4 linked regions of the Homo sapiens genome follow. The protein of the gene in region 3 purifies or fractionates together with the protein of the main gene of each other region. This does not show direct contact. Each region holds a gene or a part of one and is shown on either strand. Other genes may lie near its edges. The genes, in order: SELE, ZNG1C, SERPING1 and GALNT12.

Region 1 (3,569 bases), on a different chromosome or scaffold from region 3:
TTTTTTTCCTCTAAACTCTGGATAATTATTATTCATTCTTATGACAGCAACTGTGTAATCAGCTGTCGAAACACTGTGAAGGGCAAAAGAAAGAAAGCCACAAAATATTGTGTTTCTGTGCCAAGATTTTACAGCGAGCAAGGGAGAGTTAGAAAAGGAATTCTGAGATTTCAGAGTCTTGGTCTCTTCACCTTTGCTTGGAAGAAAATATCCTTTCCCTTCATTAGCCAACACTTTCTTGATCCTGAGAGTAGGAAAGGGAACACTGAGTCTTTTCAGTTGAAGGCCGTCCTTGCCTGCTGGACTTTGATCTATTGAAGTGGTGATGGGTGTTGCGGTTTCAGCCATAAAGGCATCTGGCATAGTAGGCAAGAAGGGCCAGAGACCCGAGGAGAGTTATCTGTCTCTGTTAACTTCAGTGTATCCCTCTAGTTCCCCAGATGCACCTGTTTCTGTAAATATAAACATGCATGTCATCAGAACACTTAATATTCTGCATACTGATCATGACAACAAAATGTACCTTCTAACACAGACACTCTCACTAGGATAGACCATGTAGGAACATCGAATTCTATTCAGTTAGGACAGTGATGATGTCTACATATTATACCTCTGTCAAAACCTACAGAATATACAACACAGCACAGAGTGAATTCTAATGTAGCCTGTGGACATTAATGAATAATAATGTATCAATATTGGCCCATCAGTTGTAACACTAATATAAGATGTTAATAACAGGGGGAATTGAAGGGGTGGTGGGGAGATATGTTGGAACTCTTTGTGCTTTCTGCTCAATTTTTCTGTAAACTTAAAACCGCACACACAAAAAAAGTTATTTTAATTTTTTAAAAAGTATTCAGAGGGACTTGACCTTTCCAAATTCTCTCAAAGCAGGTCGGAGTAGTTAAGAACACAAATTTTAGAACCAGACTGCCAGAGTTTGAATCCTGGCTACACCACTTACTAGCTTTGAGATTTCAGACAATTTACTTAACTTCTCTGTCTCATTTTCTTCATCTGTGTGATAAGAAATAAAGTAACAGGCCAGGCCCAGTGGCTCACGCCTGTAATCCCAGCACTTTGAGAGGCCAAGGCGGGTGGATCAGGAGTTCAAGATCAGCCTGGCCAACATGACGAAAAAATACAAAATCTCTACTAAAAATACAAAAATTAGCTGGGTGTGGTGGCAGGCACCTGTAATCCCAGCTACTCAGGAGGCTGAGGCAGGAGAATTGCTTGAACGCAGGAGGTGGAGGTTGCAGTGAGCCAAGATCATGCCACTGCACTCCAGTCTAGGCAACAGAATGAGACTCCATCTCAAAATTAAAAAAAAAAAAAGTAAAAAGAAAAGATAAGAAATATAGTACCAGCCCCTATCTCAGAGTTCCTAGCTTAGAAAAATTCCCAGAATATAATAAGTGCAATGTAAGGGTCAGCTATCTTCATTATTATTATCTATCATAAATGAAATTACACAATAAAGCTAGATCCGTTTCTTTCCTCTCCTTCTACAAAAAATAAAGCAACTTTCCAGAACAATACCCAGGTGATGATTTCTCCCCTGCTCCCTCCCTAAGATATTGGCAAGTTTGGAGGGTTCAAGGAGAAACAGAGCATGTAGAGAAGATACCTCTCTCATAACCATTTGTGATTTACAAGTCTTACCTGATTCTTTTGAACTTAAAGGATGTAAGAAGGCTTTTGGTAGCTTCCATCTGATTCAAGGCTTTGGCAGCTGCTGTGGAATACATGAGAACACTAGGTAAAGCACTGTCTTCCAACATGAAGAGAGAAAAATATGTGGAATGTTCAATGGCATGCTTTGTATAAGAATGCAACTTACCTGGCAGGAACAAATTTCTTTGCTGCAAAAGAAAAGACAAACAACCATTAATTCAGACTAAATGACTTTTAAGGATATATTAAATCCAGATACAATATGACTTAATTCATCAAGTGTTGCAAACTCGATGCTTCAGGGCCTCTGTAATAATCAGAGCACAAGCATGGCTCTGTGGCATCTAGGGTAAAATGCAAAGTGCACAGCCATCCAAAGGGCATAGCAGCTTCCTAATGCCAGCAAATAGCTACGGGGTCATCTTGCCCAATTCAGCTCCCAATTTTTCATGAGAAGTCCAAAGTCTTAATTTAAATGTGAGATTTCCTATTTTGTAAACGTCAGAACTTAACTCAAAAATGTTTTAAGTACTCTTAAACATGTAAGCCAAACAAACCATGAGTGTAGTCAGATGTGCTTCCATATTCCTTATGAGAGACTCTCAAATTTAAGCCTGTACTCCAAATAAATCTCCTTAGGAAGAATTTTATCCATTTTCCTTAGAGTGCTCATCATGGCAGTTCCATTGCACAATTCCGGGAGGCATCATATAATTCAACATGAATAGCACCCCCTGGAGTTGTACAATATTAGGCACGACTAACATTTTTATTTCCTGAAACACTTCCCACACTGAGTTGTACTACTAACTCTTTTCTTAATACTTCTGCTTAATTATACTGCATTTTATCCAGATTCTAATTATTGTTTAAATCAGTAAGCAAGACCATGACTTATCAATGAGAAAGAAATGTATTTTCAAAAACATTTTTGAAGTACATTCATAAACTTCCTCACCTTTCCGTAAGCATTTCCGAAGCCAGAGGAGAAATGGTGCTAATGTCAGGAGGGAGAGTCCAGCAGCAGAAAGTCCAGCTACCAAGGGAATGTTGGACTCAGTGGGAGCTAAGGAAGTAAGAGACGAAGAAAGGTCATGAGGAAGAATTGATGTTAAAGTCTCTCCGTCCTGTCCCTTTGGCCTTTTTTCTGTACATTCATTACTAGGAGCAGAAGAGCTATCTAGTTTAATACAAGAAGCAGAGATGTGGCATTACAGGCCTTTGAGATCTGCTCCAAGCCACCTTTGAAGCTATTTCCACCATTGGCAGGCAGAACTCTAACTTGCCAAGCTCGTTCACAATACCACACCACACCTTGGTTAATAAACACTGCACTTGCTTGCTCTCTTGCTCTCACTCCCTCTTGTTTTCCATTTCCCCTTTCTCCTCTCCTCTCTCTGTCTCCTTTTTCCAGTTGTCAGAATTCTACCCTTTCCATCAACATGCAACTTCTGTTTTTTCTCTATCCCCATACAACTTAATATTCACAACTTGTCAACCTGGGCGAACTTTCTGGTTTGGATATAATGAATAGTTGATTACTGTAACAAGATAGCTCCCCCTTTTTCTTTTTAATCACCAGACAACCACCATCAATCAATGCATCACCTTCACAGGTAGGTAGCAGGCCAGACCAGTGTCCTGTGGCTCCACATGTCCGAGCTGCAGAGCCATTGAGCGTCCATCCTTCAGGACAGGCGAACTTGCACACAGTGCCAAACACGGGCTCCCCACTGCAGCTCATGTTGATCTTTCCCGGAACTGCCAGGCTTGAACATTTTACCACTGCAAATGTTAGGTACACAGGCAGAGTTTCAGAAAAATCTACTGGAAAACTTCCAAAACTTGCTTAAAAGTCAACAATGAATGTAAAGTGTAAGCGCTAC
Region 2 (3,569 bases), on a different chromosome or scaffold from region 3:
GTCTCAAACCAGAGTGAGATTCTGTCTCAAAAAGATAAAAATAAATAAAAATAAAAATAAAAATAAACCAAATGAATGAAGTTTCCCTCCAAGTTTGTCATCTTCATCTTAGGAAATAGCTTAAAGTTTAATAAAGTTTACACATGCCAATTTTGTGAATATCAAATTCAACAGTTTGGAAACACAAGCTTCTAAATAAACTGTTTCACTGTGACAGTGTCCTTGAGAATACATGCCATCCAGAGGTAATTCTGCTTTATACTCAGATTCTTTCCATACTTCCAAAAAAGGATCAATATTAGACCTGTATAACAAATTACACTCTTTTACAGAAAATAATAAAATATCCAAGTCTCTCACCAAATTTTCAAAAAAGAGGAAAAGTGTAAGCTTCCAGATGAAAGTTTCTATAGCTTTCCCCAAATTTAGTACCACCATGAAAAAGAAATTCTTCACTCATTCAAGGCATACGACTAGAAAACTAATTTCCATGGCATCAAATTAATTTCCTCCTTTGGAGATAAAACCATGAGATCTTTTCCAAAGCATTAAAATCGCCAAGAAAAAAAAAAAAAAGAAAAAAAAGACCATTACCAGCATTTTAAAACTGAGTAAGAGAATGAAGTAAACAAAAAAGGGAAAGAAAAAGCTTCAAAAGTTCATTTTTCTCCTAATTTCTTGAACTCTCTATTCCAGAAGTACCTAATGTTTTTCTTAAAAGAGAGGCTTTCAATTTTTCCCTATGTCTAAAGGCTGCTTTAAGTAGCTTAAGACCAAGGACAGGAGAGTGAAAACGAAGAGGGTTTTGGCTCTCCTCGGTGGGGGTGGAATTGCAGCTACTGCTTAGGGATATTTTCCAGTGGTCAGCTCTTCAAACTCCAGTGAGTCTCATAAACAGGGTGCACCAGCCAATCCAAGTATCCAGTATCTACAATGCAAACTGTAGATACTATCCAAATTGACAGTAGATAGCTCAGTAAATAGCTGAGCAAACTGCAATGATAGCTCAGTCTTGAACTCTGGAAATAAATTTCCAAAAGCCTTCCCCAGTGGCACTTCAAACTCAAAAACGTTTACAAAACCAATCACATTTTCCAAACCTGCTTCCACCACTACCCGACCTGTTGCTCCTCCTTCCTGTATTTCCTATACCTCGGAGATTAGTCTCACATTGAATCTACCTCCCAAGAGTCATGTTGCTTTTAAAATCCTTCACTAACTCCTTGCTCCCTACAGAAGAAAATCCAAACTATGTATCATGGCATTCAAGACCCTTTGTGGTAAGTTCTCTATCTCTTCAGTCATACCACTTTTTCTGTGCTACATAATACCAAGTTTTCTAGCCATTCTAAAATATTCAAAGGTCCCTGGAATACAAAATCTTCCTTATACCTGGAAAGTTATCCCTACCCTACTCCATCTGTAAAAACCTTATTCATTCTTTAAGACTCAGGTCAATGACTGCCTTCTCGGTCAATATTTTCCTGACTCTTTTTCAAGAAAAGTTGAGCAATCATTCCCTCTATTTTCCTATTATTATAGAACTCTGTGCTTTTAAAATTCTTGTATTAATATTAATATCTATTATGTTGCCTTTTTGTTTGTTTGCTTCTGTTTCCCCCCAATGACTGATCTCCTTAAAGGCAGAGTTTTTGCCTTATCCATTGCTTATATAGTCCTTAAAATGCTATGAAATGCATAGCAGGCAGTTTGTCAAATTAATTTAACTTATTATTGACCAGCTGTGTTTTGGTTTTCCTCTGTTCAGTCCACTTACATTTCTAAAAATTAAGAAAAAGTCTAGAGAAGATTAAAATGACACATCTTCTAACCTGTTACTCCTACTTCTGAAATCTATGTGGTTCACTAGTACTTCCATTTGCTACTAAATCAACTTAAGTCTTACCACTAAGACGATGCTACACACTATTCCTTTTCCTTACTCTTAACTACTCAAGGTGAGCCTTTTTCTACACATGCTTATAGCAGTTTATTGTCAGTACTTGTCAGCTACAAAATGGTAAAAAAATTTTAAAAAACAAAAAATAAAACAAAACTTCTATAAGAGTGACTTTGACTATTTTGTTAACCATATCTCCGGGTTTTTTGTTTGTTTGTTTTTTTTTTTTTGAGACAGAGTCTCGCTCTGTCACCCAGGCTGGAGTGCAGTGGTGCGATCTCAGCTCACTGCAAGCTCCGCCTCCCGGGTTCACGCCATTCTCCTGCCTCAGTCTCCTGAGTAGCTGGGACTACAGGCGCCCACCACCAGCCTCAGCTAATTTTTTGTATTTTTAGTAGAGATGGGGTTTCACAGTGTTAGCCAGGATGGTCTCCATCTCCTGACCTCGTGATCCGCCCACCTTGGCCTCCCAAAGTGCTGGGATTACAGGCGTGAGCCACCGTGCCCAGCCCAAATCTCCAGTTTCTAAACTGGTAAGCTCAAGTTGCTATGCCTCAAGGAATTTGAGAGAATATTTAATATAAGATTCAGGACCCAATAGTAAGAATTCTACTCAGGACATCTGATCTTCATTGAAAAGGATTCTAATCCAACTTCAGTCCTCATAGCAAGGAAGTACTATTTCAGAAAGTCCCTAGATTCTCAGATGCATTGGCAAGCACCATACACTGAAGAATTCACAGAAGATTTTAGTCACTTGCTCACTCATCCACTTGAAGTAAGAAAAATCAATCACTGCATGTTTATTGTTCTATAATAAAGCAAATGTTAGAAATAAAAGTTAGAAATGTCAAACACACTAAATTGTTACATAATAAACTAATCAAGACACAACTTTTATTCAGGACATGGATATTTCTGAAATGAAAATAAAAGAAGAGAATTGACTTAAAATGTTTATAAATACGAATATTATGACAGAACCAAAGCTATTTATGAGCATTATTTTTAAAAGCTTGTTTAAGTATCATGCACTTGTCTGTGTGACATTTTGTAAAGCGGAGAAAAATTAAGGAGAAAGGAATTGTAGAACACTAACAGGAAGAGGACAGATACTGAGGAATGGCTCATGGTATAAGTGAGATTATCAGAGACTCTCTACAATGGAATTTGAAACGCAGGGAGCACATTTGGTGTATGGTTGTAGAGGACTTACACTAAGGGCATTCTTCTGCTACCTCTGCCAGCAGATGAGTGGCTCCTGAGAATGCATACCAAATTAATTCCCCAGCTGTTCACATGCATATAAGCAGCTGCTGCTGTTACTGCCTAATACTTATGGCAGTCTGTCAGCACCTCTAATCTCTGCCATAGCAGACAAGCCACTCACCTAAGGCCTCTGCTGTACTTCCAAAGAAAGAATTTCTCAAGTAGAGACTGAGTGGAACTAGACTGCCAGCTGTGAGCCTCAGAGCTCCTGGCTGCCTGTTGCTGAGTCTATCAGCTGCTGAGCCTTTCTCACCAAAAAAAAAAAAAAAAAAAAAAAAAAAAAAAAAAAAAAAATGAGCTTAATAAAATAACCCTGCACAGAAATTTTCTGAAATTAAGATAACATTCAATGGAAAACAGAATTTAATCTACAGAAATACACTTCACAGATGTTTTAGGA
Region 3 (3,569 bases):
CAAAGAGAGCTACTCAGTAAAAGTGGCTGGAAGACTTCATAGAGGAGGGTTTTTTTCGAGACAGGGTCTCACTCTGTCACTCAAGCTGCAGTGCATTGACATGATCTCAGCTCACTGCAATCTCTGCCTCCCGAGTTCAAGCAGTTCTCCTGCCTCAGCCTCCCAAGTAGCTGGGACTACAGGAGCCCGCCACCACACCTGGCTAATTTTTGTATTTTTAGTAGAGACGGGGTTTCACCATGTTAGCCAAGCTGGTCTCGAACTCCTGACCTCAAGTGATCCACACCCTCAGCCTCCCAAAGGGCTGGGATTACAGGCATGAGCCACAGCGCCCAGCTGAGGAGGTTATTTTTGACCATTCTTTGCTCAGTTATTTATCCACTCATGGACTTATCCACCCATCTATCCATCCCTATCTAATGTATTTGACCATTCATGACTCATTTAGCAGAACCAGGACAGCCTGTATAAGGCACAGAAGAGTGAATATATGTGACAGGTCCAGAGCATTGTTCAAATTCAAGATACGTTGGGGGAGGTATAAATATGAGATTTTTTTCAAATCAATTGGAATGGCTATTTAATCAAAGCCATAGATGTTAGGTGGAAAGTAGGAATTAAGAACTTAACAAGTTAGGTTTAAATGTAACTATTCGAATTATAAGAACAAGTATTTCCTCTCTAAAAATGTTTTTAAAGTTTCACACAAAACTCTAAACCAAAAATCATTGTAAAAATCCCTTGGGAGTAGACTGTTGAAACCATTGAGGTGAGGTGATAGGTTAAGGTGAGCATTCTGGACATATAATATCAATAATAAATATTCAAATACAAAGCAGGTATAATATGAAGAGTAATTTCTATCTCCCCAAGCCAATATGAGTTTTGTTTGTTTGTTTGTTTTTCTTTTGAGATAAAGTCTCATTCTGTTGCCCAGGCCGGAGTGCAGTGGCACAATCCCAGCTCTCTGTAACCTCTGCCTCCCAGGTTCAAGCGATTCTCCTGCCTTAGCCTCCCTAGTAGCTGGGATTATAGGTGCCTGCCACCACTCCCAGCTAATTTTTGTATTTTTAGTAGAGATGGGGTTTCACCATGTTGGCCAGGCTGGTCATGAACTCCTGACCTCAAGTGCTCGTCCGTCTTCGGCCTCCTAAAGTGCTGGCATTACAGGCGTGAGCCACTGCACCCAGCCTGAGTTTTTTTTTTTTTTTTAAGCCAAAGGAGGAGGAGTAGTTTTGTGCACAAAAGCCACTATTTAGAGTTCCTTAGGTTTTAAACAGATAATTAATTTAATGTACTAACAAATGCAAAATTAAAATTTTACTTATGCCTTTTAATTTTAAGCTGAACTTGCTACATTAAGAGTAGGGTGATTTGGCTGGGCGCAGTGGCTCATGCCTATAATCCCAGCACTTTAGGAGGCTGAGGCAGGTGGATCACTTGAAGCTAAGAGTTTGAGACCAGCCTGGCCAACATGGTGGAATTCTGTCTCTACTAAAAATACAAAAATTAGCCAGGCATGGTGGCACATGTCTGTAATCCCAGCTACTCAGGATGCTAAGGCACAGAATCACTTGAACCTGGGAGGCAGAGGTTACAGTGAGCCAAAATCGCGCCACTGCACTCCAACCTGGGCAACACAGCAAGACTCTGTCTCAAAACACAAAAAAAGAATAGGCTGGGTACAGTGGCTCACGCCTGTAATCCCAGCACTTTGGGAGGCCGAGGCAGGTGAATCACCTGAGGTCAGGAGTTCGAGACCAGCTTGGCCAACATTGTGAAACCCCATCTCCATTAAAAATACAAAAAATAAGCCGGGTGTGATGGTGCACGCCTGTAATCCCAGATACTTGTGAGGCTGGGACAGAAGAATCGCTTGAACCCGGGAGGCGAAGGTTGCAGTGAGCCGAGATCATGCCACTGCATTCCAGCCTGAGCGACAGAGTGAGACCTTGTCTCAGAAAAAAAAAAATAGGGTGATTTTTATATAAAAACACTCTCATTTGTTCTTGAATTAATTGCCATATTGAACAGATTAAACTCCTTTAAACCATTTTTTCTATCTACAAACATAATTAGTATTCCCATAAGCATTTTAAGCTCCCTTTAAAAATTTAATATGCTCGATTTTCTTTTTTCTTTTATTTATTTATGTAGTTTTCCCAGACAGGGTCTTACTCTATCACCCAGTCTGGAGTACAGTGACACAATCCTCACTTACTGTAACCTCAAGCTCCTTGGGATGAAGCAGTCCTCCCACCCTAGCCTCTTAAGTAGCTGAGATTCCAGGCATGAGCCACCTCACCCAGCTGATTTTCTTTTTAAACACATCTAATACCTGACAGGTCGTAATTACGACTGTGCTTGGCCATATCATCCTAACACCTAAAGCTCACTTGTAAACTGAAAATTAAATTTGAAGGGTGAATTAACTTCTAGCCAACATTCCAATATCATTCTCACATTTAATGAAATTATCCTACAACTTTGCTTAAAAGCATAAAACTAGCATGTCAGAGTCTCTTAAAAATTACAATCACTATTTTAAATAACAAACATACAGGTTACCCTGAACTTAACACCTGGTTTTAACATGATGAAGTTGGTTTCTTTTGTCATTCTTATACTAAATTCTAAATCTTCCTGGCACTTAAGGATATTTACCCAAGGAAGGGGGTGAGATTTACCGGCTCAGGTACACCGAGGTTACTGGCTTGAAAATTCAAGACCACAGCATGGTAAATTTTTCTTCAGAGATTCAAGGTTCATACATAGGACTTGAAGGGCACATGCTACTCAAATGAGTATATCCAACTTGAGTGCTACATCAACAGGGACCCCATGTCCACTCTTTTCAGTCGAAATTGGCTTACTATCTACTTCTTCTGGGCTATTCAGGTTCCGACAATTGATTGCTTTCAGTTAATTTCTTTATTGCCCAGTTGAATTCTGCATTCTTCTAGATTCTTTTTGTTCCTTCAGCCTCAATCATAATACCATTTAATGACAGTCTCATATCCTATTAGACTAGGGTTTCTCAGCCTTGGCACTATTGACATATTGGGTCAGATAATTCTTTGTCCTGTGCATTGTAGAATTTAGCATCTTCCTTAGCTTCTACTCACTAGAAGCCAGTAGCACTGTGTGCACATCCTCCTTGCCCCCTGCCAGCTATGACAACCAAAATGTCTCCAGACATTACCAAATGTCCACTGAGAGGCAAATTCACTCCGAGTTGACAACCCCTGTATTAAACCCAGGGGCCCTGCACTTCTTACATACTTTTGTCTGGTCACCAGTTGAAAGTCCTTCTTCTTTTTTTTTTCTCTTTTTGAGATGGAGTCTCGCTCTGTCACCAGGCTGGAGTGCAGTGGCATGATCTCGGCTCACTGCAGCCTCCACCTCCCGGGTTCAAGCAATTCTCCTGCCTCAGCCTCCTGAGTAGCTGGGATTACAGGCACGTGCCACCACCCAGCTAATTTTTGTATTTTTAGTAGAGGTGGGGTTTCATCATGGTGGCCAGGATGGTCTCAATCTCTTGACCTCGTGATCCGCCCACCTCGGCCTCC
Region 4 (3,569 bases), on a different chromosome or scaffold from region 3:
AACAGATGAAAGGGCTCGTGGTGGGAAGGTAGTTGGATAACTGTGATGGTTTTCTGCTGTCTACAGTGAAATAAGGATATCATACTTTTTTAGGTCTCCAACAATGGCTGGTGGGCTGTTTGCTGTGAGTAAGAAATATTTTGAATATCTGGGGTCTTATGATACAGGAATGGAAGTTTGGGGAGGAGAAAACCTCGAATTTTCCTTTAGGGTAAGTATTTCAGTCTTCTCTTTGGACATGTTCTTAACTGATTCTCTCTTTGGGAACGATGGGATTTGCTGTAAGAGCCTGGTGGACCCTGAAAGATGATGACACGCATATCCTATAAACATGCTTGCTTTCTTGTTTTAGCTTTTTAAAAAGTGTACTTTTTCTAGATTTGGGGCCAGCAAGGGCCTTGCGAGTCACATAGTTCTCTCTCACTCTATGGAGAGGAGGAAATGAAACCAGGAGAGAGGTGACTTGCTCAGGGTTAGGTTCCTCCTGATCCTGTCTTCTGGAGCCTTTACTTGATTAATTCCTTATGAAGTGGCCTCTTTATTTAGCACAGTGCCTTTCAAACTTTGACAGATGTAAGAATTTCTTTTTTTTTTTTTTGAGACGGAGTCTCGCTCTGTCGCCCAGGCTGGAGCGCAGTGGCACGATCTCAGCTCACTGCAACCTCCGCCTCCTGTGTTGAAGTGATTCTTCTGCCTCAGCCTCCCGAGTAGCTGGGATTATGGGCATGTGCCATCATGCCCGGCTAATTTTTGTATTTTTAGTATAGACGAGGTTTCACCATGTCATCCAGGCTGATCTCAAACTCCTGACCTCAGGTGATCCACCCGCCTTGGCCTCCCAAAGTGCTGGGATTATAGGTGTGAGCCACTGCACCCAGCCAACACATGTAAGAATTGCTGGGTAAACTTGTTAGAAAGACAGATTCACAAGCACAATCTAGAATTCTAGCTAGATTTGATAGCTTTAGGGTGGGACCAAGATTCTGCTTTTTGTAACAAGCCTTCCTACTGATGCTACTCTACATGGCCCGTGAAAACCGTATTGGAAAACTCCTAGCATTTCAGTAGATTTTCCAGTTAATGAAGTCTTACATTTTAAGCATCAAAACTTTGTGTAAATGTTGGTGCTTTTCAGTGGAAAATTAAGATTTTTAATAATATTTTATATGGTGTTCTGCCCTCATAAAAACTGAATAAACAAGAATTTGGCCTTCTACCGAGGACTCACGCCCTCTGTAATAAGTACCAGATGCTGTGCTTGGTTGTCCCATCTTTGGGAAAATGAGATATTCAAGGCTGTCAGTCCCAGTGTGAGATGGGCTCAGATGCCTTCGCCTGTTGAGTCTTTGGGTGTGCTTTTAATGGTCTCTCTGCCTCTTCCTTAGGTGTCAGGCTGCTCTACCTGTTTCTAGACGCTCTTCCTTTCCCCCTTCCAAACCTCTTTTCTTCCTTGCTGCTTTCCTATCTTCTGTGGCTAGGAGATCAGGTAATCAAGCCTGTGTTTTCTGTAATGAGTAAGTGGGTTGCCAGCGAGGTCTCTGTGGATGCTCCTGTGAGTCAAGTGCATGAGCTTTAGTGCATGGACTTTGGGGTCTTGGTTCCCACAGCTTATATGTTTTGGGGGCTGCTTTCTTGCTCTTTACCCACATTCTGTGTCATGAGTGTGCCGGGTAGGTGGCCTCCTGCCCGATGGAGGCTGAGCATCTTGGCAGTGTCCATCATGCCTTGCGTGTGCCTGGCCTCTTTGCTGCAGATACTATGGACCCGCAGCTCATCCCCTGCTCACCACCTGGCCTCTCCTTTTCTCTGTGTGCAGATCTGGCAGTGTGGTGGGGTTCTGGAAACACACCCATGTTCCCATGTTGGCCATGTTTTCCCCAAGCAAGCTCCCTACTCCCGCAACAAGGCTCTGGCCAACAGTGTTCGTGCAGCTGAAGTATGGATGGATGAATTTAAAGAGCTCTACTACCATCGCAACCCCCGTGCCCGCTTGGTGAGTTCCTCGGCCCACCTGCACTCCATCTGGCTTCATCTGAACAACAGCAGCTAATCGTGGCTTCCCCAACATAGTCGATCTGGTTCCAGAAATAGAGAATAAATTGGGTGCTCAGATACGAGTAAGGGGAGAATTTATTCCTCCATTTATAATAATTATATGCAGTCAAATCTTCTTATTTACAGCTGTTATAGTGCATAAAGCCACCACAAATGCTGAATTCATGAAAACAGAGCCATTGTTCTTAGGGGAAATACAGGGTTAGGTTCCTGCCAGACTTGGGGCACAGTTTTGTCAGCAGATCAATACAGAACCTTGTTTTCTATGTGTTTCTGTTCAAAGACACCTGTTTAACATATATCGTTGCATCATTAACATTGCACTCATGGCTAACAGCACGGTAACTCATGCCAGAATGAAGCTTACCTAGCACGTGTTATTTTCTCTTCATCACAACCTTCTTGCATTTAGGAACACTAGGTAGCACTTCAGCACTACGACTGGGGGACATTCTAGAATAGCTGGTGCAGTCACCAATACAAAGCAGGAAAAAATGTGGTGCCCAACAGATGGTGAAAAGAACACTGGTTTACAGGATGAGAGCTGAAACAAGAAGGCGGTGTGTGCCCTTGTTATATATCACCTGGAAATGGGAGTTAAGTGTTGGGCAACTCAAATTTTTTGTCCATGAATGTGTGTGAAAATTAGAAAACACCACAAGTATTGATTTGGAGGTTACAAATCAATTTTATTATAGCATGTAGGGAAATTCAGATACAGAACCAGTAAATAATGAGGATGGACTGTACCAACATAGATAGTTGGGGATACCTGGTGTCACAGGCCAGGCATTGTCCATGTGTTTTGGTTTTCCTCTTTGTAGCCAGTAGGGTGAGTCCACAAACACAGGGTACAAGTTAAGGCACAGTTCTTTACCTTAAAGCTATTGCTCAGGGACACATCCGCCTTATTAGTTAGGGGTCTGTTACCTCCCTCTAGAGCCTTCTTGTTAGCACCCTGGAAGCTTCCTTTTCTAAAACAGGGAGTCTGTTCTGCTTCCATTTCCAGATGGAAGGACTACTGGAGAGTGGCCCAGGCCCCCGCTGCTACTCTTTCTCACCATATGTCATGGTCATGGAAACCCCCCCACCGCCAGCCTAACAGATGTCTATCTTCCTCCCCACTCAGAGGCCTTGCTGGGCCCATCTCTCTGACCAATGGTGAAGGTGTGCCTGCAGTCACTGAAGTCTCAGCTCAGTTGGCTTGCTCCCCTGGGTCTCAGCCACACACTACAGGGACACTGGCCCATCCACCCACTGCACTGAGTCTGTCGGAGGCTGAGGTTCAGCCCAGACTGTGTCCTTCCTCATAGCGATTTATCTCAGGGACTTGTTTTCTGGTCCGGATCCTTGCTCTGCCTCTACCTCCGGGACCATTGTGGATGAGGGATCTGCCTCTTCTTTCCCAGGTCTTGGGCTTCAGATGAAACACAGTCCACTGCCTCTGCCCCAGCCAGCTCTGCATGCTCCATGGCAGGGTGCCTGCTTGCCCTGCATTTGCATAACTAGTAGGG

What was found.
Region 1: the proteins of SERPING1 (region 3) and SELE purify together in Homo sapiens (affinity purification with western blotting, with the first as the bait; one study listed by BioGRID). This does not show direct contact.
Region 2: the proteins of SERPING1 (region 3) and ZNG1C purify together in Homo sapiens (affinity purification with mass spectrometry; 2 studies listed by BioGRID and IntAct, with this or other methods). This does not show direct contact.
Region 4: the proteins of SERPING1 (region 3) and GALNT12 purify together in Homo sapiens (affinity purification with mass spectrometry; one large-scale study listed by BioGRID and IntAct). This does not show direct contact.

Annotation. Positions count from the first base shown.
Region 1 is NC_000001.11:169,724,058-169,727,626, forward strand, and holds part of SELE (E-selectin precursor), read right to left. Parts: intron 3,469-3,569; coding exon 3,292-3,468; intron 2,750-3,291; coding exon 2,642-2,749; intron 1,872-2,641; coding exon 1,850-1,871; intron 1,745-1,849; coding exon 1,687-1,744; 3' UTR 1,672-1,686; intron 453-1,671; 3' UTR 1-452. UniProt on the Homo sapiens protein: Cell-surface glycoprotein having a role in immunoadhesion. Mediates in the adhesion of blood neutrophils in cytokine-activated endothelium through interaction with SELPLG/PSGL1. May have a role in capillary morphogenesis.
Region 2 is NC_000009.12:68,269,444-68,273,012, reverse strand, and holds part of ZNG1C (zinc-regulated GTPase metalloprotein activator 1C), read right to left. Parts: intron 1-3,569.
Region 3 is NC_000011.10:57,607,621-57,611,189, forward strand, and holds part of SERPING1 (plasma protease C1 inhibitor precursor), read left to right. Parts: intron 1-3,569. UniProt on the Homo sapiens protein: Serine protease inhibitor, which acrs as a regulator of the classical complement pathway. Forms a proteolytically inactive stoichiometric complex with the C1r or C1s proteases. May also regulate blood coagulation, fibrinolysis and the generation of kinins.
Region 4 is NC_000009.12:98,835,156-98,838,724, forward strand, and holds part of GALNT12 (polypeptide N-acetylgalactosaminyltransferase 12), read left to right. Parts: intron 1-93; coding exon 94-211; intron 212-1,816; coding exon 1,817-1,993; intron 1,994-3,569. UniProt on the Homo sapiens protein: Catalyzes the initial reaction in O-linked oligosaccharide biosynthesis, the transfer of an N-acetyl-D-galactosamine residue to a serine or threonine residue on the protein receptor.